Homo sapiens: one gene and its partners. Each later gene encodes a partner of the first gene's protein in a complex. Each region holds a gene or a part of one and is shown in the gene's direction. Other genes may lie near its edges. The genes, in order: DRC10, DRC1, DRC5 and DRC12.

Region 1 (7,601 bases):
CGTGCCTGTAGTATCAGCTACTCGGGAGCATGAGGCAGGAGGACTGTTTGAGCCCAGGAAGTCGAGGTTGCAGTGAGCCATGATCGTGCCACTGCACTCCCTGGATAATGGGAAGGCCAAGACACCATTGTCCACTGCAGTATGGCAGCTAGAGCTCAATGAGTTTAAAAGTGAGCTCATTGTCCTCCCCTCCAAATGTCCTCTCCTCTCCCAATTTCTGCCATAGTTTCTTAAGGGCCCCATCTTTCTCTACCAGTCACCCAAACTCAAAACTCTTTCACTCAAGTCCTAATGATTCTTTCTTCAAAACATTTCTCACATCTACAGACAATATGAAAATAAAAGTGGCACAGGTAACCTGTAAGTAGTAACTTACAGCTTTCATTGGTGCTTACTTCTTAGGAGAGGGGGAAAGACAGACAATAAACAAATAAACAGGTGCATATAGGGATGTCAGATGGTGATACTTAACCTGGAGAACGAACAGGATAAGGGGGAAGAGATGAAGAAGAATCAGGGTGAGGGATGGGGATGTTATGGGGGGTGTCCATCTGAGACATGGTGTTGGGGGGTGAGCAGACATCCTGGGCAGTAGGTGTTCTTTTTTTTTTTTTTTTCTTTTTTTCTTTTTTAAGAGATGGGGACTTGCTATGTTGCCTGGGCTGGTCTTGAACTCCTGGGCTCAAGCGATCCTCCCACTTCAACCTCCCAAAGTGCTAGGATTACAGGCGTGAGCCCCTGTGCTTGGCCAAGGCAGTAGGTGTTCGTTCAGCAATTGCATCAGAAATCATTAAAGTCCTGGACTTGGGATTTTCGTTTTCCTGGGTTAGTGCTATTAGTTATTTATTGAACATTTTTTACAGCGTGCAGGCTTCTCATTCATCCTGAGGACTCTTGTTTTACAGCTGAGGAAGCCCAAGCTCTGGAGGATTAAATGACCAGCCCAGAGACCCCCAGCAAGGATTTGAACCCAAGTGGGGCTGTGCAAAGCTAGTACTTTTAGCCATTGTACTATGAAAGCAATATAAATTACTGATCTCTGATTGCCCTATAGATTTTTCTGAAACAGTTATTTATTTGTCTATCTATCTTTTGAAACAGAGTCTCATTCTGTTGCCCAGGCCGGAGTACAGTGATGCAAACTTGGCTTACTGCAACCTCCGCCTCCTAGGTTCAAGAGATTCTCATGCCTCAGCCTCCTGAGTAACTGGGGTTAACCTGAGTAACAGGTGCGTACCACCATGCCTGGCATTCTCTCGTATTTTTATTAGAGACGGGGTTTCGCCATGTTGGCCAGGCTTGTCTTGAACTCCTGACCTCAGATGATCCACCTCCCTCGGCCTCCCACAGTGCTGTGATTACAGGTGTGAGCTACCATGCCTGGCCTGAAATAGTCTTTTAACTAAACTTTTTACTTTGTAATAATTGTAGATTTATAGAAAAGTTGCAAAGATAGTACAGAGAGTTCCCGTATGCCCTCCATTCTGCTCCCCCTAATGTTAACATCTTAGATAACCTTGATGTGTTTGTCAAAACCACAAAATTAGGCCCGGCACGGTGGCTCCTGTCTGTATTCCCAGCACTGGGAGGCTAAGGTGGGAGGATTGCTTGAGCCTAGGAGTTCAAGATCAGTCTGGGCAACATAGTGGAGCTCATCTCTATAAAAAGTTAAAAAATTAGCTAGGCATCGAGCACCTATAGTCCTAGCTACTTGAGAGGCTGAGACAGGAGGATCACTTGAGCCCAGTAGGTCGAGGCTGGAGTGAGCCATGGTCACACTATTGCACTCCAGCCAGGGTAACAGAGCGCCTACAAAATTAATGTTGGTACAATGCTATTAACTAAACTTTAGACTAGATTTGGATTTGGATTTGGATTTCTCCAGTTCCACTAATGTCCTTTTTCCACTCCAGAACCCAATCCAGAATACAACATTACATTTAGTGAAACAGTTTTTTAAATTGTATTTCAAAGTTATATTTCACCCACCAATTTTTAAAATCAGTACTTAAAAATGGCCAGGCGTGGTGGCTCAGGCCTGTAATCCCAGCACTTTGGGAGGCAAAGGCAGGTGGATTGAGAACAGCCTGGCAAACATGGCAAAACCCTGTCTCTACTAAAAATACAAAGATTAGCCAGGCGTGGTGGTGTGCACCTGTAGTCCCAGCTGCTCAGGAGGCTGAGGCAGGAGAATCACTTGAACCCAGGAGGCAGAGGTTGCAGTGAGCCGAGATCATGGCACTGCACTGCAGCCTGGGCGACAGAGCAAGACTCTGTCTCAAAACAAATAAACAAACAAACCAAAAAACTTTAAAATCAGTGAAAATGTGCCATTCCTAGTCCTGTTAGTCTTACACTGCATTCTGCCCTGTCCCTGTCCTGCTCAGACATAGGCTGAGGCCTGTGGTTCCGTCGCCCAGGCTGCTTGTCAGTTGGTTTCCTGCTGGTTTTGGCCAAGGGCAGTAGAAAGAAACCAGGGTATTTCTCCTCCCCCACCGCCACCCTTCTTTAATCTGCATTTCCGGCAATGTCTCTAGCTCCTCTGGGAACTGATGGCTGTGGTTCAAACTTCCCCTGGGTGACCCTGGGCCCCAGGCTCACCATCTCTTCATGTGGTGGCTTCCTGCCATTGACAATTGCGGGATGGCTTTGTCTTCCCCTGGTTGGCCTCTCAACTCTCCCATCACTGATGTAACCAGTCTCTGGTTTTAAATCCTTAGAATGCTGTCTGTATGCCTGGCTGGTCCCCGCCTGACACATGTGCCTGAGATGCCTCCACACTTGGTCTTCCTGCCCTTGTGGCCCTAACACCCTCACAAAGCTGAAAACTGCTTCCAGTGAAAGGTTCTGTGTAAAAGCGACAGAGGACCTAAGATGAACTCTTGATGTCAACAGTTGTGGTTTCTGCAGCCACACTAACCACACAGATGTCAGCACAGCTGCACTCACACCTACTTCTTCATTTTGCAGGATGGCCAGAGACAATAAAAGCACGAGACCCAAGTAGTCTACCGAAGTCTCCATCTCTGTGGACCTACAGAGGCACAGAGGGCTGCTCACAAGATGGCTTTAGACATTCTCGCCATGGCCCCTTTGTATCAGGCCCCTGCCATCAACAGAATAGGGCCAAAGACAGACCCATCTAAAAGGCCAGCTGATCCACTAAAACCCTTGGTTCTCTCTAGGACCAAACTCACCACCATTGAGGCCAAAAGGATCATGTCCATCCTGGATGAGGCGATCTACAAGGTGGAGCTGGTGACCTTGCTGTCGTATGTGGCATCCAACAGAGAGGATATGGAGGGGATGCTGGGGGAGGACGTCATGAGGGCAGTGAGAGAGCATGAGGATCTCTGCCAGGTCCTCCTTGAAAACGTCAGGTGCCTGAAAGAGAAAGAAAGGCAATTGCAGGAGCAGAAAGAGGCTGAGGAGGAAGGGTGGCTCAGAGACCGCCTCCTTTCCATAGAGCTGCAGAAATCCAGCCTCTCACCACTTATGCAGCAGATCAAAGACTCCACCAAGAACGTCCTTAGACTCTTGCTCAGCAACCCCCAGGCTGCTAGGCTCCTGCAGATGCAGACACAGGGTAGAAGTGCAGAAGCCCAGAATTTTATTGACAGCCTGATAGAGCTCCGTGGTTTCCTGTTTGAAAAACTACTCACTAGTCCCATGGAAGCGAGGGATAAGGCCCAGTTCTTACAGGATATCAGTAGACAGAATAGTAATAACCAACAAATCATTGATACTCTTGAAAAGGAATTGGCGGAGAGAATGAAGAACAGGAATGCAGAGGTATTGTTTCATAGTATTGCTGAAATTACTGAAGAAGCCACACAAATCTTTTGTTGGTTGGGTTTTTCCTCAATGATTGATTTTTTTTTTAAGATGGAGTCTCGCTCTGTTGTCCAGACTAGAGTGCAGTGGTGTAATCTCGACTCACTGCAACCTCTGCCTCCCAGGTTCAAGCGATTCTCCCACCACAGCCTCCCAAGTAGTTGGGATTACAGGCGTATGCCACCACGCCCGGCTAATTTTTGTATTTTTAGTAGAGACAGGTTTTCGCCATGTTGGCCAGGCTGGTCTAGAACTCCTGACCTCAAGTGATCCTCCTGCTTTGGCCTCCCAAAGTGCTGGCCACTGCGCCTGGCCAATTGATTGACTGATTTTTTTGAGACAGGGTCTCACTCTGTTGCCCAGGCTAGAGTGCAGTGGCATGATCACAGCACACTGCAGCCTCCATCTCTCAGGCTTAAGCAATCCTCCCATCTCACCCTCCCAAGTAGCTGAGACTACAGGTGTGTGTCACCATGCCTGGCTAATTTTTTGATTGTTTGTAAAGATGGGCTCTTGCTACGTTGCCCAGGTTGGTCTCGAACTTCTGGGTTCAAGAGATCCTTCCGCCTTGGCCTCCCAAAGTGCTGGGGTTACAGGCATGAGCCACTATGCCCGGCCTCCCCAGTGATTTTTTTTTTTTTAAGATGGAGTCTTGCTGTGTCACCCAGGCTAAAGTGCAGTGGCAACATCTTGATTCACTGCAACCTCCGCCTCCTGTGTTGGGAATGGGTGCTCGGTGTCGCCAAAATCAACACTGAGACAAAGGATCTCTCAGCAAGGCTAGTTTACTCTCTGCAGAAAGGGTGCTGCTTGCTAGCAGTCTTGCCACAAGAGCACACATGAACAAAAGAGACGGGGTCATTTATAACCTGACGCATCCACCCTACTGCTGTGTCCAGTTTCCATTGGCTGGAACAGGACCTCACATTCTGTACTCAACCCGATTGGCTAGCAATTTAGAACTTCCCAAAAGAGGCAAAGGCAGAGGGAAACAAAGGAAGAGAGCAAGTAACTCCTGGAATGCTGAGAGAGGCAAAAACACCTCCAAATAAGGAAGAGGAATAGGCTATGACCTAATGCTTGCTTGGACCGGTTCAGGTATGCCAAGGCAAATATCTAAGCTAAAATGTGGGAGCTAAGAACAGAGTATATTGATTTCTTTTTTTTTTTTTTTTTTGAGGCGGAGTCTTGCTCTGTCACCCAGGCTGGAGTGCAGTGGTGTGATATCAGCTCACTGCAAGCTCCGCCTCCAGGGTCACACCATTCTCCTGCCTCAGCCTCCCGAGTAGCTGGGACTACAGGTGCCCACCACCATACCCAGCTAATTTTTTTTTTGTATTTTTAGTAGAGATGGGGTTTCACCGTGTTAGCCAGGATAGTCTCGATCTCCTGACCTCGTGATCCGCCCACCTCTGCCCCCCAAAGTGCTGGGATTACAGGCGTGAGTCACCACGCCCGGCCTATTGATTTCTTTTTTTTTTTTTTTTTTTTTTGAGACGGAGTCTCGCTCTGTCGCCCAGGCCGGAAGCCGGACTGCGGACTGCAGTGGCGCAATCTCGGCTCACTGCAAGCTCCGCTTCCCGGGTTCACGCCATTCTCCTGCCTCAGCCTCCCGAGTAGCTGGGACTACAGGCGCCCGCCACCGCGCCCGGCTAATTTTTTGTATTTTTAGTAGAGACGGGGTTTCACCTTGTTAGCCAGGATGGTCTCGATCTCCTGACCTCATGATCCACCCGCCTCGGCCTCCCAAAGTGCTGGGATTACTGGCATGAGCCACCGCGCCCGGCCTGATTTCTTTATTACAGCTAGCAGAATTGAAGAATATTAACACAGGTCTTCGAGTAAATTTTGGTTCTAAGAGAGGTTACTACCTATTCTGAATTAGACTGGGAGGAAAGTCCCTTTGAAGAGGAACCTCTATTTCATTTTCTACATCCTGGGTTCAAGCAATTCTTCTGGCTCAGCCTCCCGAGTCTCTGGGACTACAGGTGCCCGCCACAATGCCCAGCTAATTTTTTTATTTTTAGTAGAGATGGGGTTTCACCGTGTTGGCCAGGCTGGTCTTGAACTCCTGACCCTAAGTGATCTGCCCGCCTTGGCCTCCCAAAGTGCTGGGATTATAGGCGTGAGCCACTGCGCCTGGCCTAAGTAGCTTTTTTTTTTTAAAAAAAAATTCATTTACTCCACAAATTATTGTAAGTACTTACTAGGTGCCAGGTCTTATAAATAAGCCCATGTGGTTCCAGCCTCATGGAGTTCACAGTAAGGAAGGTAGGAATTAAAGAATTCATTTAATTACAGTTTTGAGAAGTACAATGTACTTCTCAAAGGGAGTGTTACAGGAGAACTTAACACCAAAAGGTCAGGGACATTGAAGCCAAGATATGAAGAATGCGAGGGCGTGAACCAGGCAAGTGCAGTGAGGAAGAACCTTCCAAGCTAGGGATCAGCGAACTATTTTTTTTTTTTTGAGACAGTCTTACTCTATGCCCAAGCTGGAGTATAATGGCATGATCTCAGCTTACTGCAGCCTTCACCTCCCAGGTTCAAGTGATTCTTGTGCCTCAGCCTCCTGAGTAGCTGGGATTACAGGCATGTGCCACCACGCCTGGCTAATTTTTGTATCTTTTAGTAGAGACAGAGTTTTGCCATTTTGGCCAGGCTGTTCTTGAATTCCTGGTCTCAAGTGATCCTCCCACCTCCCACCTCAGCCTCCCAAAGTGCTGGAATTACATGTGTGAGCCACCGCACCTGGCCCCAACTTTTTCTACAAAGGGCCAGATAGTAAAAACATTAGGCTTTGTGGGCCAGATGGTCTGTTGCAATTACTCAACTCAGCTTTGCTGTTATAGGGGAAAAGCAGCCACAAACAATATGTAAATGAATGGGCTGTGTTCCAACAAAACTTTACTTACAAATACAAGTGGCTGGCTGGATTCGGCCTGTGGGCCATAGTTTGCCAACCCCTGTTCCAGGTGGAGGGTAGAGTGCACCTCAGTAATGAGACAAGAATAAGCCTGGCTAGTTCAGAAACCCAGAGAATGCCAGTGAGCTAGAGGGAAGGGACAAAGATGGGCTGGGAAAGCAGGGGAAGGAGACAGATCACACAGGGCCTTTGAGGCCTAATCAAGGAATTTGGTTTCTAGAAGTTTTTAGTTTTAGAGACAAGATCTTGCTCTGTCACCCAGGCTTGAGTGCATTGGCACGTTCATAGCTCACTGCGGCCTTGACCTCCTGGGCGATTCTCCTGCCTTAGCCTTTTGAGTAGCTGAAACTACAGGCATGCGCCACCACTCTTGGCTAATTTTTTACATTTTTGTAGAGACAGGGTCTCGCTATGTTGCCCAGGCTGGTTTCGAACTCCTGGGCTCAAGCAATCTCCCTGCCTCAGCCTCCCAAGTAGCTGTGACTACAGGCACATGCCACCATGCCTGCCTAATTAATTTTTTTTCTTTTTTTAGAGATGGGGTGTCTGGCTGGAAGTAGTGGCTCACACCTATAATCCCAGCACTTTGGGAAGCCAAGGCAGATGGATCACTTGAGGTCAAGAGTTCAAGACCAGCCTGGGCAACAGGGTGAAACCCCATCTCTACAAAAAAAAAAAAAAAAAAAAAAAAATTAGCTGGGCACAGTGGCTCATGCCTGTAATCCCAGCACTTTGGGAGGCTGAGGCAGGCAGATCACCTAAGGTCAGGAGTTCGAGACCAGCCTGACCAACATGGTGAAACCCCATCTCTACTCATAATATAAAAATTAGCTGGGTGTGG
Region 2 (7,601 bases), on another chromosome or scaffold:
TACCTCCTCATCAACAGGATGCCAGGATTTTTATTTAACAGTATCAAAGTGTATCCCCTTTCTTCCAACTTTAAAATCTTAGTGCTCAGTGACTTCAAAATAATGAATCACATGCCTTCCCCACAGCACCACAGAACTGCCTCAGAGGAAAATATCAGCCCTGCCACCAACAAATGATTACTAAAGACAGTTTACACTGTTTTATGGTTCCTTTTATTCTTAAAATGTGTCCCTCCAGGGATGTACAGACAGATTGCTATATTTTAAAGTCACCTGGAGCCAGGTGCGATGGCTCACCCCTGTAATCCCAGCACTTTGGGAGGCCAAGGCGCGCAGATCACCTGAGGTCAGGAATTCGAGACCAGCCTGGCCAACATGGCGAAAACCTGTCTCTACTAAAAATACAAAAAATTAGCCGGTCATGGCGTGCGCCTGTAATCCCAGCTACTCAGGAGGCTGAGGCAGGAGAATCGCTTGAACCCGGGAGGTGGAGGTTGTAGTGAGCCAAGATTGCACCACTGCACTCCAGGATGAGCAACAGAGTGAGCCTCTTTCTCAAAAAAATAAAAAATAATAAAAATTAAAAAAAAAATAAAAATAGGCCGGGTGCGGTGGCTCATGCCTGTCATCCCAGCACTTTGGGAGGCCAAGATGGGCGGATCATGAGGTCAGGAGTTTGAGACCAGCCTGACCAACATGGTGAAACCCTGTCTCTACTAAAAATACAAAAATTAGCCGGGCATGGTGGCGCGCGGCTGTAATTCCAGCTACTCAGGAGGCTGAGGCAGGAGAATCACTTGAACCCGGGAGGTGGAGGTTGCAGTCAGCCGAGATTATGCCACTGCACTGCAGCCTGGGTGACAGAGCGAGACTCTGTCTCAATAAATAAACAAATAAATAAAAATAAATGCACTTGGAATAGTTTCTGTGTGGTTATATCACCAGCTTGATACACATATAGGTATTTTTGTTTCGTTTTGCTTTTGATTATTAGGGAATGGTTTTTTACAATTTAATTATGTTTTTTGTTCGTTTGTTTTATTTTTGTCTTTTTGAGACAGTCTCACTCTGTTGCCCAGGCTGGAGTGCAGTGGTGCAGTCTTGGCTCACTGCAACCTCCACCTCCTGGGTTCAAGCGATTCTCCTGCCTCAGCCTCCTGAGTAGCTGGGATTACAGGTGCGTGCCACCATGCCCAGCTAATTTTTGTATTTTTAGTAGAGACGGGGTTTTGCCATGTTGGCCAGGCTGGTCTCAAACTCCTGACCTCAAGTGATCCACCTGCCTCAGCCTCCCAAAGTGCTGGGATTACAGGCATGAGCCACCACGCCTGGCCTAAGAAGTTAATTTTAATTAAGAAAATTTTTGGCTCTTGCTGTCAGCTGTCAGTTCTTGCTGTTAATATTTCTCTGGACCAGGCGCCGTGGCTCATGCCTGTAATCTCAGCACTTTGGGAGGCCGAGGCAGGCAGATCACTTGAGTTCAGGAGTTCGAGACCAGCCTGGCCAATGTGGCAAAACCCCATCTCTACGAAAAACACAGAAATTAGCCAGGTGTCGCGGTGGGTGTCTGTAATCCCAGCTACTTGGGAGGCTGAGGGAGGAGAATCACTTGAACCCAGGAGGCGGAGGTTGCAGTGAGCTGAGATCACACCACTGCACTCCAGCCTGGGTGACAGAGCAAGACTCCATCTCAAAAAAAAAAAAAAAAAATTATCTGTGAATGTGCAAAGCCACCTGCCCCTGCTTTGAGTTGGCTGCTTCTGTCTAATCTGTTGCAGGTTTAGAGACTATATAGCCACTTGCTAGATCATCTCTGAAATAAGAATAAATGGGCTCACACTCTCCCTCCCACTTCCTGGTTCATGGCTGGATTTTGAGTATGATGTTTCCAGGTAGACGCAATTTGGAAAAGTAGGGCATTACAGGCTGGCTGGGAATGGCCGAGTTCTCCAGGTAGTCTCTGATTCCGACCCCCTAGCCCGCCTTCCCGCCACGTAATAGGCTTTTTTCATCATAAAGAGACTGAGAGAATGCCTCACAGAGGCTTTTTAAGAGGTACATTTTCTCAAGGAAAGCCATCTGACTGTTTCTCAGAGTCAACTAGCTCCAGAAATTATCTTCTTTTTCTTTCTCTCTCCTCCCCATGACCCAACTGCAGAAGAGGAGGAGGCAGAAGAGGCCGCCGCGGAACCAGAGTCCTACCTGGATTTGCCGAAGCAAATTTCTGAAAAAACTACCAAGAGGATCCTGATGCTCCTGTGTGACGAGTCGGTGAGGCCAGGCGGGGGCTGCAGCAGAGGGACTCACGGGGGTGTGCAGGTTCTGAGGCCTCTGCTGGGCCAGTGCTAGCCTGGAGTCAGGAGTGGGCCAGTCCTCCCCTGGCCAAGCCCAGGGTTGGGCCCTGAGGAGCAGAGTCAGGATGGCCCCTGGACTTCAGGGCCGGTTCATAGAGGCCTTGCCTCTGAGCTGGCCCAGCTGGAAAATGGGTCTAACCTTGGTTGGCCAGCATGGCATAGTTTAGGCCAGCTGGAGGGCTCCTGCCAGCTTAAAATGATGCTGCTTCTGAGACAGAAGTTGCACCAGCTCACCTCCATGAACCAACTTGCTAAGTGATGTGGCCACACTGACATGGCCCTTCTCAGGGGCTTGTTTTGGGGGTGACTCTGGCTATGTTGGGATTTGGATGTCTGCATTGTATGTTAGCAAACATGATTAGCCTTAGAATAAAAGCTGCATTGAGCTGGTTCAGCTGGAGGTTGGGTTGTGGTCAAACATGGGCAGTGTTTGTTTGGATCTTACGGTTCTGAAGTGGGTATTCTTTTAGGATAGTGAGGGCAGTTGCCTTTGGCTGGCTCTTGCCACTGAGGGCAGCTGCTGCTGAAGGGGTCAGGTGGCAGGTTCTGCCCTCTGAACCTGCAGCTGGATGCAGAGGCCACCTCCCCATGGAGCTCTCCCCCAGGCATCCCAGCTCAGAGCGGGCACCGCATCTGCTCAGCCGCCCTCTCCCTTCCACCGCATGTGTGCTGTGTTTTGGTTTGGGGTGCCCACTGCTTTCCATGCCTCCCTGTCCTGCTGCTGTGTTCTGTAGATATTTGGGGACAAGACTATGGGTGAAGCAGGAGCCTGTGACTGGGTCAGCTTTGGACTGTGGTGGGGGCCTCAGGAGTTTGCCTAGTGGCTTGTGGGTGAGGTGGGTTGGTGCCCTTCTGGGTGGGAAAAGCTAAGTCTGTGGTGAGGATGGGCTTTGTCCCTGGCCTTGCTTGTCTCTGGCCTTGCTCCCTGGGGAGGGGGGCGTTCATGGGCACCCCAAGAAGGCTTTGCTGGGGCCCACTGCTGGCTCCCATCCCTGGGCGTCTGCTCCGTGGCATGGTCCCTGGAGTGTTACACAGGGGGCAGCTGCAGACCCTGGGACTCGCTCCTGAAACCTGTCCCCGACAGGAGATGCCTTCTTCCTTCTCCCCAGGGGTTCCTCATAGAGAGCAAGCTGCTGAGCCTTCTCCTGCCCCTGGAGCAGAATGAATGCTATCTGCTGAGGCTGGATGCCATCTTCTCCGTGAGTCCAACGGGGCTGGGAGGACACGGGTGGGGCTGCAGCCGGCCGTGTTCTCAGATGGCCCTGCCATTGCCTCAACCCTGGCAGTGGACGAGGGTCTCCCGGGGCTTCCCCTGCTCCCTGTCACATCCTTCCCTTAACCTACTCTCCACACAACACATTGGTCTCAGACTCACTGCAGTGTCTCCCACCCCTGCCTCTTCCTCTACTAGCATCTTCCTCTCAGGTTGTAGGTTCTCCCTGACACCCCCAAACTCAAATCTGGTGCAGCCCCACTAGGCATCCTCACAGCCATGGGATCCATATGGAGCAGCTCCTGGCTCTATGAGCATTGTTTCCGTGTGTTCTGATGTGTGTGTCCCCAAGTTCACAGTCGCTTCCCAGCGTTGGATGAATGCCCTCCACAAGCCAAGCCTCCCGCTCTTAGGAGCTGAGCATCTGTCAGCTGCCCAAGCCCGTGGCCTCTTGATGGGGTGTTTGAGCAACCATCCTGTTTTTCGCCCCAGGCCCTTGGAATTGAAAGTGAGGATGACTTGTATAAACTGGTGAACTTCTTCCTTAAATATCGAGCTCACCGTTTATCTTCCAGCCTCCAGGTAAGGCAAGGTGCAGAGAGAAGAAAGCATTTTCTTTCTTTCTTATTTATTTATTTATTTTATTATACTTTAAGTTCTGGGTTACATGTGCAGAACATGCAGGTTTGTTACATAGGTATACATGTGCTCTGGTGGTTTGCTGCACCCATCAACCCATCACCTACATTAGGTATTTCTCCTAATGTTATCCCTCCCCTAGCCCCCACCCCCCGACAGGCCCCGGTGTGTTATGTTTCCCTCCCTGTGTCCATGTGTTCTCATTGTTCAACTCCCATTTATGAGTGAGAACATGCGGTGTTTGGTTTTCTGATCTTGTGATCGTTTGCTGGGAATGATGGTTTCCAGCTTCATCCATGTCCCTGCATTTTCAATTGTCCCGAAGCCCCCAGAGCACAGTGCTGTCTTTGAGTAGCACTTCTGGAGAAATAGCGGGGCTTTTATGTCAGGTATAGCTAACTTAGCATTTCCCTTATTGTTTATCAATTTGTCTCTTTGTAAAGGGAAGAATGGCTTGGGGGTGAGATGCTGTTCTTATACTGAGGCCCAAGCAATCTTTTCCTGCACCCTCCCTCAAAACCAGGTCTCAGCCACTGTGAGACCAGAGCCCACCAGGTTCTGAATATTTTGATCCTTAACACTTTCCCGCAAGGCAAGGCCCATTTGTCCTACATATCTTGATTGTAATTGATTTCAGAAGGTGAATCAAATATTAACTATTTTAAAGAAGATGCCATATTAAAAGTCATATAACATTTTAATTTAAAAATGAAAAATGTGAATGAAAAATGTTTTTAGTACTGCTAGCCCAAAGCTGAGTATCCTGACATGCCTGTAAAAAGAGTTGGCTGGGCTAGGCACAGTGGCTCATGCCTATAGTTCCAGCTACTTGGGAGGCTCAGTTTAGCCCAGAAGGTTGAGGCTGCAGTGAGCCATGATGAGGTTGAGGCTGCAGTGAGCCATGATTTCACCACTGCATTTCAGCCTGGGTGACAGAGTGTGAGACACTGTCTCTAAGGGAAAAAAAAGAGAAAAGAAAAAAAGAGCTGGCAGAAATGGACAAAACCACAAAGCCATAAAGGGAATAAAAGCTATATTTGACTACAGAATTTAAAAACAATTCTGTAGTGCAAAAATCATGATAAGCAAAGTTAAGAGATGAATGACAAGCTGCAGAGAAATATTTTCAACTCATATCATAGTTAAGGCATTTCCTTAATATATAAAGAGCTCTCTGAAATCAATAAGAAAAAGACCAACAAAAGGAACAGATAACAAATATGAATGAACAACTCCTAGAAGAGGCAATACAGGTAACTCTTAAACATATGAAAAGACAATCAGCCTTCCTTGTAATAAGAGAAATGCAAATTAAAATGGCTGATTTCCATTTTGCCAACCTGTTATGTTGGCGCAAAAAAAAAAAAAGCTTGATAACACAGCAAGTATAACATAGCGATGACTGAGGTGTAGAAAACAGGCACACTCATAAGTTACTGGTAGGAGTATAAATTGTAACCTCCATTGAGGACAGTTTGGCAGTATCAATTACAAAACTATATACATTTTACTCTGAAATTCTTCTTCTTTTTTTTGAGACAGAGTCTCACTCTGTTGCCCAGGCTGGAGTGCAGTGGCACGATCTCGGCTCACTACAACCTCCATCTCCCAGGTTCAAGCCATTCTCCTGCCTCAGCCTCCTGAGTAGCTGGGATTGATTACAGGCACCTGCCACCACGCCCGGCTAATTTTTGTATTTTTAGTAGAGATGTGGTTTCACCATGTTGGCCAGGCTGCTCTCGAACTCCTGACCTCAAATGATCTGCCCACCTTGGCCTCTGAAATTCTTCTTCTAGGATTTTATTCTCTAAATATATCTCATTACAGTTGAAATGGTGTATTTATTGTAGCTGATTCACTGTACATTGTTTGAAATGGCAGAAGATTCGAAACAACCTATATGTCCATTGTTGAGGAATCTATTTAATAATATATGGTATGTCTACACGATGGGGTACTATAAAACTGTGGGAAAAAACCAAAGTTCTTTATGTATTCACATGAAAAGGTACCTAAGGTTTATTGGTAAGTGTAAAAGCAAACTACAGAACTCTATTTGTAGTATAGTATCATTGATGTCAAAACGAGAAGGAGGAGTATATATGGAAAGGTATGCGCATGTATTTATATATAAACATTATATAGACATACTATTTCCTTGGAAGGAACCATAGGAAACTTGATAGCATTCGTTTGCCTGTGGGAGGTCAATTGCATGAACTGCAAAATAGGAGTAGGAGGAAGACCTTTTAAATTTAACAATTAAAGCAAAAATTTAATCTGTATTATGATTCAAAAGAAGATTTCTAACATGTAAGCTTTATGAATGTCAGTAAGGTGAGCACCTAGGAGCCCGGATTTAGAAACAGAACCTTTCCATTTTCTCGTAGCCTCCTAGTGCCTCTCCCCATCCCATCCCCCTTCTTCCCACTCTTTCTCCTGTTTCTGTCCCTGTGTAAATGTCTCCCTGGGCAAGCTGTCACTTTCTGTAAACTTTTCTGGTTTTTCTTCTTCCTGCCTCTCTCTCCATGCTCATGCTCGTGTGTCCCCAGCCCACAGTTGTCCGTGCATCTTTCTCCAGATCAAGCCCTGCAGTCAGGCGAGCATGGAGAAGGCGAGCATGGAGGAGACAAGCACGAGGTCAGAATTGGAGCTGGCAGAGCAGACGGAGATGGAGGGAGAAAAGGAAGAAAGCCTGGTGGAAGGGGAGAAGGAGGAAGAGGAGGAGACCCCACCCTCCCCCTGGGTCATCCACCCCAATGATGTCCTCAAGATTCTGGAGGCCTTCGTCATGGGTCTGAAGAAGCCTAGGTGGGCTGCGGGGCTGGAAGGCTTGCCTGAGACCAGAACCAGGGGAGCTGGATGGGCTGGGGAGCCAGGCAGAGCCAGTGAGTGGAGAAGAGTCTGCTGGGCAAGATGCGGGGACTAAGGACAGGGCTATCTGAAGGCGGGCTGGGGCAACCAATCGCTGGACAGTCAGGAAAGCAATAGGGCATAGTGGTGATCTGTGCTTTTTTCACTCATCATTCATTCAGCAGACATGCACTGAAGGCTGCCATGTGTAAGCACTGTGGGGGCACTGCCTTGTGATCAGAGTAATGGTCAAAGCACATTCAAGGTGCACCATTGTTCAGAGGAGGAAGTGGCCGTTTCCATTTGGCATGTCAGAGGGTTTTGGGAGGAAATGGCACTGGAACTAGGTGTTCCCAGGCAGATAAAATGGAGGTAAGGGCATTTCAGGAAATGACAGCATGGGGAAGGTCTGGTCTGTTCAAGAATCATCACAGGAGGTCTGGCTGGAGTGTCAAGGGCCTGGGAGGTGGCACTGGTGGGTGGGGAGCTAGCCAGGTCTTGGAGAGCCTTGCCCAATGTGCCCAAGATCTTTGTCTTTACCC
Region 3 (8,095 bases), on another chromosome or scaffold:
GATGTACTGCTTCTGGCCATAGGCTGTGGAAACTGCTGTGATGCCCCAGTGGCAGCGGCGGGAGCTGCTGGCCACAGTGAAGATGCTGCAGCGGCGTGCCAACACTGCCATCCGTAAGCTGCAAATGGGACAGGTGAGAGGAGGTTTGGCTGCACCCATGTGCCCAGAGACACTCCAGCAGATACACTGAGAAGTCTCAAGGGCTGGGGCATGGGGGTGAGTCAGAGGCTGTGCAAGGACGGGGTGGTGGCAGCTTCCTTCTCCTGCCAGCTGAGAACCATCACCCAGGCCATTCCCCCACTTCTGTCTCTTTCAAACTGTGTTTCTCCCCCAACTCCCAAGTCTGGCTCAGAACCCCCGGAAGCCTACTGACTTGATTAGTGCCATTCAGCCCTGATTGCACCTCCACTGTGGATCCCCCTTTCTCCCGCCCACTCCTGGTCCATCTGTGCTCTGACCTTCCTCCTTTCACCTTCAGCGACCTATTTGTAGGGGCCTGAAGCTATGATGAAAGGGAAGTGGTGAGGGAAGTGAGGAAGGACACATGTGGGACCCAAAAAGGAGGCCACCCTAGGCAGAGTCCCTGCCACCTCTGCCTAGAGCTAATGACTTTTGGGGTGGGTGGGGGAAGCAGGGGATTGCTCAGCTGGGGCTTAGTTCAGAAGTTGGGGCTAATTGGAAACCTGCCTCTCAGCCTGACCCCTCTGCTTGTCCTTCCTGCCCCATAGGCTGCAAAGAAAACTCAGGAGCTGCTGGAGCGGCACTCGAAGGGGCCTCTGATTGTGGACACAGTCTCTGCTGAGTCTCTCTCAGTGAGTGCTAGCCAAGCCGGGCTGCCCCAGGGTCTGGGGAGGGCAAAGTCCTGACCAGGAGACAGCTAGGGGTCTGGGAAGCGATGGGCTCACCATCTGTCTTTCGTGGTCCAGGTGCTGGTGAAGGTGGTACGGCAGCTGTGTGAGCAGGCCCCCAGCACGTCTGTGCTCCTACTCAGCCCCCAGCCCATGGGGAAGGTGCTGTGTGCCTGTCAGGTGGCCCAGGTGAGGGAAGTGGGAGAGCAGCCCACCGCCCCCATTAATACCCATCCTGGTCCAGCTCTCTGATTTTACACCTTTAATTCCTCCCAAAGGGGCCAAGGCTGGGTGGAAGTATCTATGAGGATACTCCAGGACAGGGATGGGGAATCTCCTTGTTCCTGAAAACAGCCCCTCCCCACCCCAGAAGGCACCAAGAGATTCCTTAATTCCTAACCCCTCCCAGGCCTCACATCCCTTGTAAACAAGTAGCAGATGTTCACGTTCATACACCTCCCCACACACATTTCCAGCCCAAACCTTCTCCGGCTCATCACCTGACTGCCCCACCATGTGCCCAGCTGGGAAGGGGGCACTGATGACCTTCAGCTCCACTCTTGAGGGTACCTTGAGTGGATGCTGGCAGGGAGGGCCACTCTGCATCGCTTCCTCTTCTGATTCTGTTCCTAGGGTGCCATGCCCACCTTCACAGCAGAGGCCTGGGCACTGGCAGTGTGCAGCCACATGGGGGGCAAGGCGTGGGGCTCACGAGTGGTGGCCCAAGGCACCGGAAGCACTACTGACCTGGAAGCTGCCCTCAGTATAGCCCAAACCTATGCCCTCAGCCAGCTCTGACCCAGGTCCGCCCAGGGACCCACATGGACTAAAGGCAATGCCAGGAGCCCTGAAGGAGCCAGCAGAACCTTCCCACATGCTGAAGCGAGGACTAGAGGCTGGAGGCCAAGCAGCTGAGCCAAAGAAGATCACCTGGGCCAGGGCCTACGTGACACAAGGAGACATGGGCTAGGGAAGGCAGAACTGGGCCCAAAGACACACACCCCCTTGGTGAAAGAGAAGACATGGACAATTATGGCTGTGACTGCACATTAGAAATTATTTCACTGGCCGGGTGTGGTGGTTCACACCTGTAATCCAAGCACTTTGGGAGGCCGAGGCAGGTAGATCATGAGGTCAGGAGATCAAAACCATCCTGGCTAACATGGTGAAACCCCATCTCTACTAAAAATACAAAAAATTAGCCGGGTGTGGTGGCACACGCCTGTAGTCCCAGCTACTCGGGAGGCTGAGGCAGAAGAATCGCTTGAACCTGGGAGGTGGAGGTTGCAGTGGGCCAAGATCGCACCACTGCACTCCAGCCTGGGTGACAGAGCGAGACTCTGTCTCAAATAATTATTTCACAGAGGATAGCAAGCTCCAGAAGGTTCTATTACCTTTAAAAAAGAGTAGTTTTGCCCCTCCCAGCAACCTAAGACCAGTCTGAACTCACACTGTCTGAAAGGCCACCCAGGATCCAAATCGGGCCATCTTCATTGCCATGAGTGTTCGGACAGGCTCTGCGTGCCAGGCAACAGTGGGCAGACAAAGGGCTCCCTGGCTACTGGGAAGATACAGAACCATCCTGTGAAAATCATTTCAGCACTGGAGACCTTCTTTGCTATTACTTCTTTCATTAACAATGACCTCTAATTTAAATTGGGCCCTGCTGGTTTGTTGATGAATTGAGCAACTGAGAACGTGGCGGGCACTAAACTGACAGTTCCTTCCTTCATGGAGCCTGCTTCATGTGGAGGAAACAGGAAATAAAGCAAAAGAAGAGGGTCAGGCTTGGTGGCTCATGCCTATAATCCTGGCATTTTAGGAGGCTGAGGTTGGAGAATCGCTTGAGGCCAGAAGTGCAAGACCAGCCTGCGCAAACAGCAAGACCCTGTCTACAAAAAAAAAAAAAAGTAATCTTTATGCCTCAGCCTCCCAGGTAGCTGAGACTACCCACACCTTGGTCCCAGCTACTTGGGAGGCTGAGGTGGGAAAATCACTTTGCCCAGGAATTCAAGGCCGCAGTGAGCTATGATTGCACCACTGCACTCCAGGCAACAGAGTGAGACCCTGTCTTAAAAAAAAGAAGGGAGAAAGTGTCAGATGGTGATGAGGTCTGGGGGGGAAATAGAGAATGGGGATCAGGAGTGTGGATGGTGATATTCCCTCACCAAGAGGTGACATGTGAGCAGGGAGCTGGGAGGTGAGGGTGTGACCCGTGTGGAAATCAGGGAAAAGCATTCCAGCCTGAGGGAACAGCCAATGCAGAGGCCGTGAGGTGGCCAGTGCCACTGAGCAGTGAGCTGGGATAGGGGCAGGTGAGGAGGCTGGAGAGCGGGGTCAGACAAACAATATGCTTATTAAAACAAGTTGTACAGCACCTGCCTCAAGCCTGAGCTGAAGCTGAAAATTGGCACTTCAAAGCAGGAGGAAGCAGAGATGGAGGAAAGCCCTCCTTCCCTACCAGAATGAGTCCACCTCAGACAGCCAGACTTTGGACCTCTGCCTTTGTTCCTAGATCTCTGTTGCTAGATGAAGGAAAGGGCCTCAGGGGATCCATCTTCAAATCAAGGGCTCCCTGGCTACCAAATTCTGTCTAGTAAAAATTATTCGAGCAGCGTGGGCCCGCCTGGCATCATTTTCTGCAGTTTCTCATTCTAATTAAGGCACTGATGATTTGCTGGTAAGGCACTGCTGAGGGCTTGAAGGGACCCAATCCCGGGTGCCTGGCCCCTCACTGCTTGCAAAGCAGCATCCTGGCCACTGGGGCAGTAGCCTGTTTAGCAGTGCTCACCACAGGCCCAGGTTCAAGCTCCTCCGCGAGCGCCAAGATGAGTTTTGGCACCCCTGATTTATTGATGAGTTAACAGAGCTTCGAGATGTTCATCCAGGGTAACCAACTAGTAGTCCTCGGCAGAGCTGAAGTCAAAGCTACCCTTTGAAAGCCCCGCCACCCTGGCTGCCTCTCCCTTCCTGAAGGCCAATTTCTTTTTTTTTACTAGCCGTCCCTCTGGTCTGTCCCTCTCGCCCTCCAGGAGATCTGGGGCCCCAACCACATCTTGTCGCGCCAGGGCTGGAAGAGAGTTTGGCACAGGGCATGGACTGTGTGAAGGAGCGCTGTGTTGGCCTGGAACCTTCCTGCGTCTGGTACCAGACCTTCAGCTGGGGGAAAGGTGGAAGGTGCCCTCCCTCCCGCAGGGCCTAAGGTCAACAGGAGGCCTCACGGGAGTTCCAGTGACTTCTACAGGTGCCTTGGAGAAGGTGCGTCCACCCTCCTCTTCTTCCACAGACGCTTTTCCTGGACCAGCTCCCTATCCATTGCCACACAAAAGCTACCAAGAGAGCACAAGCACTCCAGACCAGCAGCCCTGCCCGACCCCCGCCTCCCGCAGAAAGCCCACCCGTTCCTAGACACGTCCCACGGAAGCACAGGGCATAGCGCAAGGCCACAGTCCCACTACCCGCAAAGCGGCCGCTTCCACGGAACCGTCCCGAGGCCGGGCCTGGCCACCCTGCGCGCGAGTAAGCCGCGTGCCTGGCGCGCAGCGGCAGCGGCAGCGGAGGAAGCAGCGGCGCGCTCGTCCTCCCGGCCCGGCCCGCTCCTAGCAACGCGGGGCGTCCCCAACGACAAAGACCTGCGCCGGCGCGCGGGACTCTGCGTGAGGCGAGCGCCGGGGCTCCCGGAGCGGGTGAGGCGACCTCCGGGAGTGGGGACACCCAGCCCCGGTCTCCCTTATCGGGGCCCCCTCTGGCCGGCTGGGCCCGGGAGCCCCTCTAGCGTCCTCTGCCCACACCGGCCCGAAGCCCACGGGCGGCCATTGCCTGGGTTGCGTTTTCCGTGGCGGGGAAGCGCCGGTCCGTACCCACGGGAGACCCCACGCCCTCCACGCGAGGACGCCCCGCGCCTCCTCCCCACCACAGTCACTGTCTGCAAACCGTCTGGCCCGGGGCTGGGGATCCGAGTGAGGCGAGGGGAGGGACTGGGAAGAAGAGGGGGAAAGTGGGGCATCCGTAGGGCGTGGAGGAGAGCGGTCCCAAGCCCTGGGGCCCTAGGCTTCTCCGAAAGGCCGTCCGTTCCCATCACCCGAGGGCTGTAATCCCTCCCGCGGGTGCGGAAGCTTCCTCATCTCCCTACCTCCCACTGCACTGCCGGTTTCCCTGGGTTACCAAGGAGAAGCCAGCGCCTCTACACCCCAGGTAGGATGGGGGAGGGACTCCTGGCCTTTGGAGCTGAGCTTCTCTGCTGGGGTGTCTGAGCTGAAGGTAGGGAGGAGGGGTGGGAGACTCCAGAGCCGCTGGAGTCACTTTTGAGACAACAGACCTGAGTGGTCAGGAGTTGGGAGGAGGCCAGCCCAGGGGCTGTGGTAAGTGAACTGGCGGTTTCACCCAGCCCAAGTCCAAGCACACGGGCCGAGGCTCAGTTGGAGAAAGTTTTTTGCCCTTCCACAAGTGGAATTCCCAACTTGGGAGTGACTTACCCCAAAGTAAGACATGGTGGGCATGAAGGATATGGAGGTGGCTGTAGACAAAAGCCCAGAGCCCTGAGAACAGAGGAGGGCTCTCCTGAGGGGATCTGGGGTGGGAGCGGCTGAGAAGGCAGAGAAGGCAGTCAGAGCAGTGGGTGCAAAGCCAGCTCCTGGGGAAGTGTCCCGGGCACAGAGGCGCTGTCTGCCCAAAGAGGGCCGGGTGTCTCCACTTCTCCACTAAGAGGAAGGGAGGAGGGGACAGTTGAGGACCAGAACTGTGATGCACAAGAAGGTGAGAATGCAAACCTACAGCATCTTCCTCGTGTTCCCATTAGGGCAGGTGGAAGGAGCTCCTACCCAGAATGGTTAGATTTAGCTGGGGACCTGAGGAAGGATGGAGAAGACCTGAGACTTCCTGTGGAGGGAATATGCCAGGGGCAGGAGAGCACCACTCTGCAGCACTCTGTTGGGCTCCTTGCACCCTCCAAAGGATGCAGGCAGTGGTCCAGCCTTGCGGAAGTCTCCTATACCCAGCAGTGAACTGGAAGAGGGAGCCTGGACTATTTAGGTCAGCACCAAGGGTATAACCCTGGGCTCCATATTGGTGAACAAGAGAGCTCATGAGCTGGAGAAAGTGGGAGACCCACTGGAAAAGTGCTATGAATGACTGAGTTGGGAGCAATTTATAAGCAACCCCAGCATCTCATGGAAGTAAGAGCATTAGACAGACACAAACTAAAACCTCAGCTTCTCCACTTACTAGCTAGTGACATTTAGTAAGTTACTTAAGCTTTCTAAGTTTCAGTTTCCTCATTTGTGAAATGGGGACAATAGTGTTAAATAATAATCCTCAATAATTAATTTGAGATTTTAATAAAATTATGTAGTAAGGTATCTAGCATCTTCACTACAATATCTAACACACATCTTGAGTGCTGGCTCTGGGCCCAGCACTATATGAAATGTCTCACACACATTAGCTCCTTAATCTTCTGAGTAATCCTATGAAATAGATACTATTAAGTACTGTCCCCACGTTATAGATGAAGAAACTGAGGCAAGTGGGGACCTGCCCAAGGTTGCACAGATAGTGGGGGGCACCGTGGAGATTTGACTTGAGGCAGCAGCACAACTCCTGAGTACTTAGCCAGCTGCTGTCCTGCCTCCTGCTATGTACATGTTATTGAAGGCCTAGAGCTCTCAATAAATCATAGCTATATATAGCCAAGGGTATGGTTCCCAGAACACCTGTCCACCAGATTCAAGCCATCAGAAATGAGGACAACCCTGGCCAAACTGGAACATCTTGTCACTTTCTATTACCTGTGCTTGGGCATGGAAAGAGCAGTCCACACCCAATCCTTTGAGTTAATGTCCTGGTATAGACGTTGTTCCCTGTGTGTGATTTCAGGACCCTGGACCCTGGTCCTGAGGATGCAGAGTAGGGGCCCAGGGGAGGAGGATTGGCCTTTCCCTGGGGACTGTGGTCCCAGGTTAGAGACACAACCATGTGAAGCCAAACAAGCTGGTGAGGCAGGCCCCAGAGAAGTGAAAGTCCACTGCACGTGTCCCCACTCTCCCACTTTCCCCCTCTGAGAGCGCAGCACATCCTTGGATGGAGACACCAGGTGGTGGCACAAGACGTACCCACTCCTGGTGGCCCTGACCTCTCTGGAATGTCAGGATTCCTGCCCTGCCCATGTTCAAGACTGGAGTCTTGAACATGCTCCTAGTCTTCAAACTCTGGCATTCTCTGACTGGCCCAACAGGTTCCCAGGGAAAGAAAGCTCCGGAGAGGAAGGTGACCCTTCAGCCACCTCCAGGACTGCCCTCTGTGGGTCCTTGGGGACTGTCCATGTGCCCGGGGCCCCCAGCTATTGGGTATCCACCCATCCCTGCAGGCTCCCAGGGAAGATAGTGCCACCTACTTGCACCCTCAGCTGCAGGCTGATGACTGCCAGGCCAGACTAAGACCAATCTGTGAAACAGGCAGAGCTCTCTCAGACTCCTGTCTTCTCCTTTACCCACTCCCCACCTCCTCTCCTTTCTGTGGTTATTCTCCTTGCCTCCTTTCTTTTTCTTTCTTTCTTTTTTTTTTTTTTTTTTTTTGAGACAGAGTTTTGCTCTCATTGCCCAGGCTGGAGTGTAGTGGCGCAATCTCAGCTCACTGCAACCTCTGCCTCCTGGGTTCAACCTTCATTTTTTTCCCCTAATTATCTTATAAACCACCTCTTTCAGCCTCTCAAGTAGCTGGGATTACAGGCATGTGCCACCATGCCTGGCTAATTTTTGTATTTTTAGTAGAGACGGGGTTTCACCATGTTGATCAGGCTGGTCTTGAACTCTTGACCTCAGGTAATCCACCCTCCTCGACCTCCCAAAGTGCTAAGACTACAGGCATGAGCCACCATATCCCGCCTCCCTTGCCCCTTTTCTAACTTTGCTTTTTGTATCTGAAACTCATTCACACTAAGGTGTGGAATACATATATCCTGATATCTTATATGTAGTCATGTGTATTATATATGTAATTTCTGCACACTTAAACTGTCAGAAACAATATATTACAACTTCTACTTTTTAAAAAGTTTGCTACATTAGGCTGGGTGCAGTGGCTCACGCCTGTAATCTCAGCGCTTTGGGAGGCCAAGGCGGGCAGATCACCTGAGGTCGAGAGTTCAAGACCAGCCTGACCAATATGGAGAAACCCCGTCTCTACTAAAAATACAAAATTAGCCAGCCGTGGTGGTGCATGCCTGTAATCCCAGCTATTCGGGAGGCTGA
Region 4 (7,967 bases), on another chromosome or scaffold:
AACAACAAACAAACAAAAAATTAGCTGGGAGCAGTGTGTGCGTCTGTAGTCCCAGCTACTGTACTCCCAGCTGGGAGCAGTGTGTGCGTCTGTAGTCCCACCATGCTGAGGTGGGAGGATCACCTGAGCCAAGGAGATTGAGGCTGCAGTAAGCCGAGATCGCGCCACTGCACTCCAGCCTGGGCCACAGAGCGAGACTCTGTCTCAAAAAGAAAAAAAAGAAAGAAAGAAAAACCTCCCAAACAGGCTTCTAGATGAGGAGGACAGGGACAGGTACCCCCACTGCATTACAGCACAGGAGAAGGAGGTGGTGGAGGGAGAATAAATGAAAAACATGCTCAAGATTAGAAGAAGCTGGTCTGATGGTACTGGGTTATCAGAACTTATTAACATTAGTGTCATGTCAAAGAAAAGAGTCAAACTCTGTAAAATATTTGAAGAGATTTATTCTGAGCCAAATATGAGTGACCAATGGCCCGTGACACAACTCTCAAGACATCCTGAGAACAAGTGCCGAAGGTGAACAAGCTACAATTTGGCTTTATACATTTTTTTTTCAGACGGAATTTCACTCTTGTTGCCCAGGCTGGAGTGCAATGGCGCGATCTCGGCTCACTGCAACCTCCGCCTCCCGGGTTCAAGAGATTCTACTGCCTCAGCCTTCCAAGTAGCTGGGATTATGGGCGCCCACCACAATGCTTGGCTAATTTTTTGCATTTTTAGTAGAGACAGGGTTTCACCATGTTGGCTAGGCTGGTCTTGAACTCCTGACCTCAGGTGATCCACCTGCCTTGGCCTCCCAAAGTGCTGGGATGACAGGCGTGAGCCACTGCACCGGCTTGCTTTATATATAAATTTTAAGAAAACATAAGACATCAATCAATATATGTAAGATGTACATTGGTTCAGTCTAGAAAGGCAGGACAACTGGAAGCGAAGAAGCGGGCAAGAGAATTAGGGTTAGAGTTAGGGTTCCAGGTCATACGTGGATTCAAAGATTTTCCAATTGACAATTGCTTGAAAGAGTTATTATCTAAAGACCTGGAATCAATAGAAAGGAATGTCTGGGTTACAATAAGGGGTTGCAGAGACCAAGGGTTTTTTGTTTTTGTTTTTGTTTTTTTGACAGAGTTTTGCTCTTGTTGCCCAGGCTGGAGTGCAGTGGCGCAATCTCGGCTCACCACAACCTCCACCTCCCGGGTTCAAGCGATTCTCCTGCCTCAGCCTCCAAAGTAGCTGGGATTACAGGCACCCGCCTCCACACCCGGCTAATTTTTTGTATTTTTAGTAGAGACAGGGTTTCGCCACGTTGGGCAGGCTGGTCTCAAACTCCTGACCTCAGGTGAATCCACCTGCCTTGGCCTCCCAAAGTGTTGGGATTACAGGAGTGAGCCACCGTGCCCGGCAAGAGACCAAGGTTTTATCATGTAGATGAAGCGTCCAGGTAGCAGGCCTCAGAGAGAATTGATTGTAAATGTTTTTTCTTCTTATCTTTTCTCTTTTTATTTTTTGAGACAGGGTGCCACTGCATTTCCCAGACTGGAGTGCAGTCACGTGATCATGGCTCACTGCAACCTCAACCTTCCCAGGCTCAGGTGATCCTCCCACCTCCGCCTCCCAAGTAGCTGGGACTACATATGCACACCACCAAACTGGGCTAACTTTTGTATTTTTTGTGTAGATGGGGTTTCACCACATTGCCCAGGCTGGTCTCAACCTTCTGGCCTCAAATGATCTGCCCGCCTCAGCCTCCCAAAGTGCTGAAATTACAGGCATGAGCCACCAGGCCTGTAAATGTTTCTTATCAGATTTAAAGAGTGTGTTCTATCAGTAATTCTAAAAGGGAGGAGGGTATGTTGAGGCATGTCCGGCTCCCCCTTCCCATCACGGCCTGAACTAGTTCTTCAGGTTCACTTTGGAAAGCCCTTGGCCTAGAGGAGGGGTCCACTCAGATGGCTGGCAGGCTTAGAATTTTATTTTTGGTTTATAGTCACTAAAGTTGGTATACAGGCGCCCACTACTAAATTCCACTGGCTTCAAAAATAAATAAATAAAAGATTAGAAGAAAAATATCCTCCAGATTTGGGAGATGTCCACAAGATTAGTTGACTCTGAGTTACAGGAGCTGGAAGCACTTGGGAAGTCAAGACTGGCTCTTCTCTTTGCTCTGTAAAATGCCCGGAAGTTCATGTAAGTGCCGTGCAGCCACCAAGGTGACAAGCATGAACCAGCCTCTGCCTAAAGTTACCCACTACCCAGAAGAAGGACTTTTCAATTCCAGATCTTGTGGCTTTTTTTTTTTTTTTTGAGATGGAGTCTTGCTCTGCTGCCCAGGCTGAAGTGCAGTGGCGCAATCTCTGTTTACTGCAACCTCCTCCTCCTGGGTTCAAGCGATTCTGCTGCCTCAGCCTCCCCAGTAGCTGGGATTATAGGCACGTGCCACCATGCCCAGCTAATTTTTGTATTTTTTAGTAGAGACAGGGTTTAATAATGTTGGCCAGGCTGGTCTCGAACTCCTGACCTCATGATCTGCCTGCCTCAGCCTCCCAAAGTGCTGGGATTACAGACGTGAGTCACCGCGCCCAGCCTCTTGTGGCTATTTCTACAGATCTGCTCCTGACAATAGGCAATGGACCAAAAATATTGAGGGTGACAGAGATGAAGAGAAGTACCTAAAGAAGGCCGGGCACAGTGGCTCGCGCCTGTAATCCCAGCACTTTGGGAGGCTAAGGCGGGTGGATCACGAGGTCAGGAGTTCAAGACCAGCCTGGCCAAGATGGTGAACCCCCATCTCTACTAAAAATACAAAAATTAGCCAGGCGTGGTGGTGGGCACCTGTATTCCCAGCTACTTGGGAGGCTGAGGCAGAGAATTGCTTGAACCTGGGAGGTGGAGGTTGCAGTGAGCCGAGATCACGTCACTGTACTCCAGCCTGGGCAACAAGAGCGAGACTCTGTCTGAAGAAAAAAAAAAAAAAAGATAGGCTGGTGCAGTGGCTCACGCCTGTAATCCAAGAACCTTGGGAGGCCAAGGCAGGTGGATCGCTTGAGGCCAGGAGTTTGAGACCATGCTGGACAACATGGTAAAACCCCATCTCTACAAAAAATACAAAAATTGGCCAGGTGTGGTGGCATGCGCCTGTAGTCCCAGCTACTCAGGAAGTTGAGGTGGGAAGATCACCAGAGCCCAGGGAGACTGAGGCTGTAGTGAGCCGTGATCATGCCACCGCACTCCAGCCTAGGTGACAGAGAGAGACACGGGAAAAAAAAAAAGAAACCTAAAGAAAAGAAAGGGTCTGCAGGTCCCCTAATCCAAAAGGAGAAAAGTCCTGAAGTTTTTGCTATTTTCACTCTAACCAGTATGGTGCCCAGAGATCCAAGTGGCAGATAAATGGCAAGCCTCCAGGATAGCACAGAGCTGGAGGGAAAGTGAGGGCTGCCTGACAAGGGAGGGCCACCCATCATACTCTCTCCCCAATGTTAATTCTTCCAGCCACTCCTGGCTCAAACAGGACGCTAAGAAGTATCCCCAAAGGGAGTCACCCCCACTGTTGCCCAGTAAATAATTTAAAAGCAAAAATGTAGGAAACTCAGGAGAAGGTCAAACAAGTCCACTAGAGGGAGCCCCAACCAACTCTATGCTACAGGGAGCCTCACAAAGCAATGTCTCAACACCTGTCTGAAAATCAACCACACAAGGGAATGGGGAAATGTAGCAATAGATTAAGTCACTAGGAGAGAAGATAGCCATGTAAACACGCAGCTAAAACACAGGCTTTTCAAGAGCTGCAAAATCAAACAATTAAAGATCAGGAAACTGATGCTGAGCAAAGTCAAATGGCTCGCCTCAGTTTACATATCCACAGTTGGGACTCAAACTCACATGTCTTGTCTCTAACCTGAGCTCTTTCCTCCACACTTGCATCCCTCTAGGTCAGTACCCTAGAGTCCATGGGTCCACTATTCCTCTGCGTCTCATTTCTCTGAAGTGGGAAACTCCCTGGACTACCTATTCCTGCACTTATTACCCTCATTCTACAGTGTACTGAAGAGGATCTTCGGTGGTCTGGGAGTTTTGTTTGTTTGAGACAGGGTCTCCCTCTGTCATCCAGGCTGGAGTGCAGTGGTGCAATCATAGCTCACTGCTGCCTCAACCTCCCAGGCTCAAGTGATTCTCCTGCTTCAGCCTCCCAAGTAGCTGAGACTACAGGTGTGCACCACCACACCAGGCTAATTTTTTAATTTTTTTGTAGAAATGAGGTCTCACTGTGTTGTCCAGGCTGGTCTCGAACTCCTGGCCTCAAGTAATCCTCCTGCCTCAGCTTCTCAAAATGCTGGGATTATAGGCACGAGCCACCGCCCCAGCTTAGATCTTCAGTTTTAAGCCTACTAATGTCATTTTGCTGGTGGGACCTCGGGATGTCAGTTGTCCAACATGGCTACTGTCAGTCCTTTTCCTCTGTATCAGCACCACATATTATCTCAGATGTGTACATCTGAATTTGGAAGTCTCCAAATTGCAGGCCATGTCTACATGGCAATGAATCATAACTAATCGACCTCCAAAGCCCTTTCTTTTCAAACTATACTTAGGATTTTGGGATAAGGAAAGAACTGACCCTTTGAGACCTTGATATTTTAAACTTTGTGAGCTGATTTAGCCCATTCCACCTTCCTGTGAACTCCATGTTTCCCAGTTGCCTGGACAACATACAGCCTCTGGAAACCCAACCTTCCAGCCCTCAGTCCTGCCCTCAAGAGAAATTTGCCACCAAGGATTGGCTCCCAGGACCCAGGCCCCGCCTCAGGCTCCTCGCTAGTTGGGCCTTCTCTCTGCCACTCCCCACGAGTGGGTCACTCCACGGGGAGCCCCAACGCTGGCAGGAGAGGATCCTACAGGTAGGAAGTGAGGGTTGAGGATGATGGGAAGAGGGAGGGGAGCAGGTACAGGGATTTCGTTTCTCTAAAAGAGAGTTGCAAGGAATGACTTCTGTACAGAGTCAGCCTGGTTGAGAGAAAAAACTCCATCCTCCCCACTGACCCCAACCCTGTCTGAGGTTCCAAAGAGACTGTGAACTGACTTTTCTGAAGGATATGAGAGACAAATTTGGACTCAGGAGAGTCTCCTGGTTCAGTCTAAAGCTCAGGAAAGCATCCCTGTGTCCAGACCTAAACATAAGGTCCCCTCCTTCTCCCAGGACAGCAAGGAGATGCCACCTAAAAACAAAGAAAAAGGGAAGAAATCTGGGGCACAGAAGAAGAAAAAGAACTGGGGTGAGTCATGGTGGGTGGAGGTGCCCCCTGCTTCTCCATGTTCTGCCATGAAGACCACGCAGAGCTCCTCCAGAGAGAATTCAGCCTTCTGCAGGACAGGATGGAGCTCTCTTGACCTACCTCTTTCATGTCCTCACAGCCAGATCCAGGGAGCTGAGGAAGTGGGGAAATGGTCACCCACGCTCTCCTTTAAGCCCCATCTAGCTCTGTGCCTTCCTAATATATTTGTCATGTGTATTTTGCATATCTGTTATGTGCTGGTCGGTGAGGACACGGTGCTGACTTCAGTAGACTCTGCCACTGTGGATACCTCATTTAGTGGTCCTCAGGTCTGCTGTGGCAAAAGTGCAGGGTGTGGGGTGAGGATGTGAGCAGAGTGAGGAATGCTGAGATCATGAAGAGCTGAGGCTCTGCCACTTGCCACCGCAGGTGCAGATGTGGTGGCCGAGTCCAGGCACAGGCTGGTGGTGCTGGAGAAGGAGCTGCTCCGAGACCACTTGGGTAAGGAGGGTAGAAGCTGGCATGGGTGGGCAACAGGGGAAGTGAAATGGGGCATTTCTGTATCCTGGGGGATTGGAGAGTTGGAGGTATGGTGGGGGGTTAAGTTGACCCTAACCATCCCCTAGTGGAAAAAGATGATGAGAGAGGGTGGGCAGTGAGAGTTGATAAAGGAAGGTGTTTTTTTTGTTTGTTTGTTTTTTGTTTTTTTTGGTTTTTTTGACAGAATTTTGCTCTATTGCCCGGGCTGGAGTGCAGTGGTATGGTCATAGTCCACTGTAATCTCTAACTCCTGGGCCGCAACAATCTTCCCGCCTCAGCCTCCCGAGTAGCTGGTATTACAGGTGCACACCACCATGCCTGGCTACTTTATTTATTTATTTTTTTTTTTTTTTTTTTTTTTTTTTTTTGAGACAGAGTCTTGTGCTCTGTCGCCCAGGCTGGAGTGCAGTGGTGTGATCTCGGCTCACTGCAACCTCTGCCTCCCAGGTTCAAGCGATTCTCCTGCCTCAGCCTCCCGAGTAGCTGGGATTACAGGCACGTGGCCACCACACCTGGCTAATTTTTGTATTCTTAGTAGAGACGGGTTTTCACCATGTTGGCCAGGCTGGTCTCGAACTCTTGACCTTGTGTCCCACCAGCCTTGGCCTCCCGAAGTGCTGGGATTACAGGCGTGAGCCACCGCGCCTGGCCCTATTTATTTTATAGAGACAAGGTCTCACTCTGTTGCCCAGGCAGGTCTCAAACTCCTGGCCTCAAGCAATTCTCCCACCTAAGCCTCCCAAAATATTGGGATTACAGGCATGAGCCACCATGCCAGGCTATCCGAAAAGAACATAGAGGGAGTTTTTACTTCTTAATAATGAGGAGCCTGTGAGACTCTAGGGATAAAAAACAAAAACAACAAAACCCAGAGAGAGAGTAAGAGGCTGGACACCCCACCACCAGATTTCTAGAGGTGGGCAAAGTCCATCACGTTCATGGGGGCTGATTTAGTGGGACCCAGCCAGTCCTGACGGCGGCTCTGGGACTGCTCACAGCTCTACGGAGGGATGAAGCCCGTCGAGCCAAGGCTTCCGAAGACCAGCTGAGGCAGAGGCTGCAAGGGGTGGAGGCTGAGCTGGAAGGGGCCCGAAGTGAAGGGAAGGCCATATATGCAGGTGTGTGGTCGGTTAAGCAGGTGGGCAGGAGACAGGGGCTTGGAGGAGGACAACCAACAGGGTCAGTTGATGCAAGGAAGGGAAACAAGGAGGGCTTCCGACTGCCAGGCCTGGTCTTGGTCTTTCCCAAACAGTACAAATCAGGAAGGATCCTGCAGGAACCAAAGGCAGGTAGGTTCCTGGGATCCCAGGCAGGGGCCTTCCAGGATGCCTGGTGCCATGTGCTTGATGCTGTGTAGGATACACATGCAGTCATAGCCATCATCTCAATCAGCCCATGGGCGGGGAGAAGGGCTAGCATCCCCATCCAAAGCTGGACTGGGGGAGGTAGGTCGGGCTTCCTGTCCCTTCCTCAGGTTTTCATGGTCTGCAGCTTCTCAGAATCACAAAAAGAACCAAGAAGGCCTTTGTGCTCCTGTTCCACTAGACCAAGTAGAGTCTTCCCCACCCACAACTTCATTTCCTTTCTCCATCCCTCCATCTCCAACCTGGGTCCCTGGTGGCCCACTGCCCCCACCCCAGAGATGAGTCGCCAGTGCCATGCCCTGCAGGAGGATATGCAAACCCGCAGCAAGCAGCTGGAGGAAGAAGTCAAAGGCCTTCGGGGGCAGCTAGGTAGGTTTCCCCACCCTCCAAGCCCCTTCTCTCCAAGAGTTGCAGCAAGGGCCAGCATGAAGGGGTAGACTTCAAAGTCTCTGCTCCAGAAAGCTGCCGTCTGGGCTCTTGGATCACTTTCCCCACTTTCGCTGACCCTCCACCACTGAGGACTGCAGCAGAGGGTTCGGGATACCAAAAATCTCTGCTGTAAGTAAAGAAGAGGCTCCAGGCGCGGTGGCTCAGGCCTGTAATCCCAGCACTTTGGGAGGCCAAGGCGGGCGGATCACCTGAGGTCAGGAGTCCAGGAACAGCCTGGCCAAATGGCAAAACCCCGTCTCTACTAAAAATATAAAAATTAGCCGGATGTGGTGGCGCACACCTGTAATCCCAGCTACTCGGGAGGCTGAAGCAGGAGAATCGCTTGAACCCAGGAGGCAGA

Evidence for each region.
Region 2: DRC10 (region 1) and DRC1 share a complex: the UniProt entries of both Homo sapiens proteins name them as parts of the nexin-dynein regulatory complex.
Region 3: DRC10 (region 1) and DRC5 share a complex: the UniProt entries of both Homo sapiens proteins name them as parts of the nexin-dynein regulatory complex.
Region 4: DRC10 (region 1) and DRC12 share a complex: the UniProt entries of both Homo sapiens proteins name them as parts of the nexin-dynein regulatory complex.

The regions. Positions count from the first base shown.
Region 1 is NC_000012.12:113,203,629-113,211,229, reverse strand, and holds part of DRC10 (dynein regulatory complex protein 10), read left to right. Parts: intron 1-1,101; exon of another isoform or gene 1,102-1,229; intron 1,230-2,720; exon of another isoform or gene 2,721-2,970; 5' UTR 2,971-3,063; coding exon 3,064-3,792; intron 3,793-7,601. UniProt on the Homo sapiens protein: Component of the nexin-dynein regulatory complex (N-DRC), a key regulator of ciliary/flagellar motility which maintains the alignment and integrity of the distal axoneme and regulates microtubule sliding in motile axonemes.
Region 2 is NC_000002.12:26,446,533-26,454,133, forward strand, and holds part of DRC1 (dynein regulatory complex protein 1), read left to right. Parts: intron 1-2,158; coding exon 2,159-2,271; intron 2,272-3,463; coding exon 3,464-3,553; intron 3,554-4,059; coding exon 4,060-4,149; intron 4,150-6,787; coding exon 6,788-7,017; intron 7,018-7,601. UniProt on the Homo sapiens protein: Component of the nexin-dynein regulatory complex (N-DRC) a key regulator of ciliary/flagellar motility which maintains the alignment and integrity of the distal axoneme and regulates microtubule sliding in motile axonemes.
Region 3 is NC_000006.12:44,294,098-44,302,192, reverse strand, and holds the start of DRC5 (dynein regulatory complex subunit 5), read left to right. Parts: upstream 1-4,494; 5' UTR 4,495-4,534; exon of another isoform or gene 4,535-5,042; intron 5,043-5,646; exon of another isoform or gene 5,647-5,879; intron 5,880-8,095. Other genes in the region: AARS2 (alanine--tRNA ligase, mitochondrial), read left to right, coding at 23-133, 729-812, 927-1,037, 1,482-1,646. UniProt on the Homo sapiens protein: Component of the nexin-dynein regulatory complex (N-DRC) a key regulator of ciliary/flagellar motility which maintains the alignment and integrity of the distal axoneme and regulates microtubule sliding in motile axonemes.
Region 4 is NC_000011.10:119,192,730-119,200,696, reverse strand, and holds the start of DRC12 (dynein regulatory complex protein 12), read left to right. Parts: upstream 1-4,855; 5' UTR 4,856-4,898; intron 4,899-5,197; 5' UTR 5,198-5,209; coding exon 5,210-5,273; intron 5,274-5,702; coding exon 5,703-5,774; intron 5,775-6,811; coding exon 6,812-6,931; intron 6,932-7,453; coding exon 7,454-7,546; intron 7,547-7,967. UniProt on the Homo sapiens protein: Component of the nexin-dynein regulatory complex (N-DRC), a key regulator of ciliary/flagellar motility which maintains the alignment and integrity of the distal axoneme and regulates microtubule sliding in motile axonemes.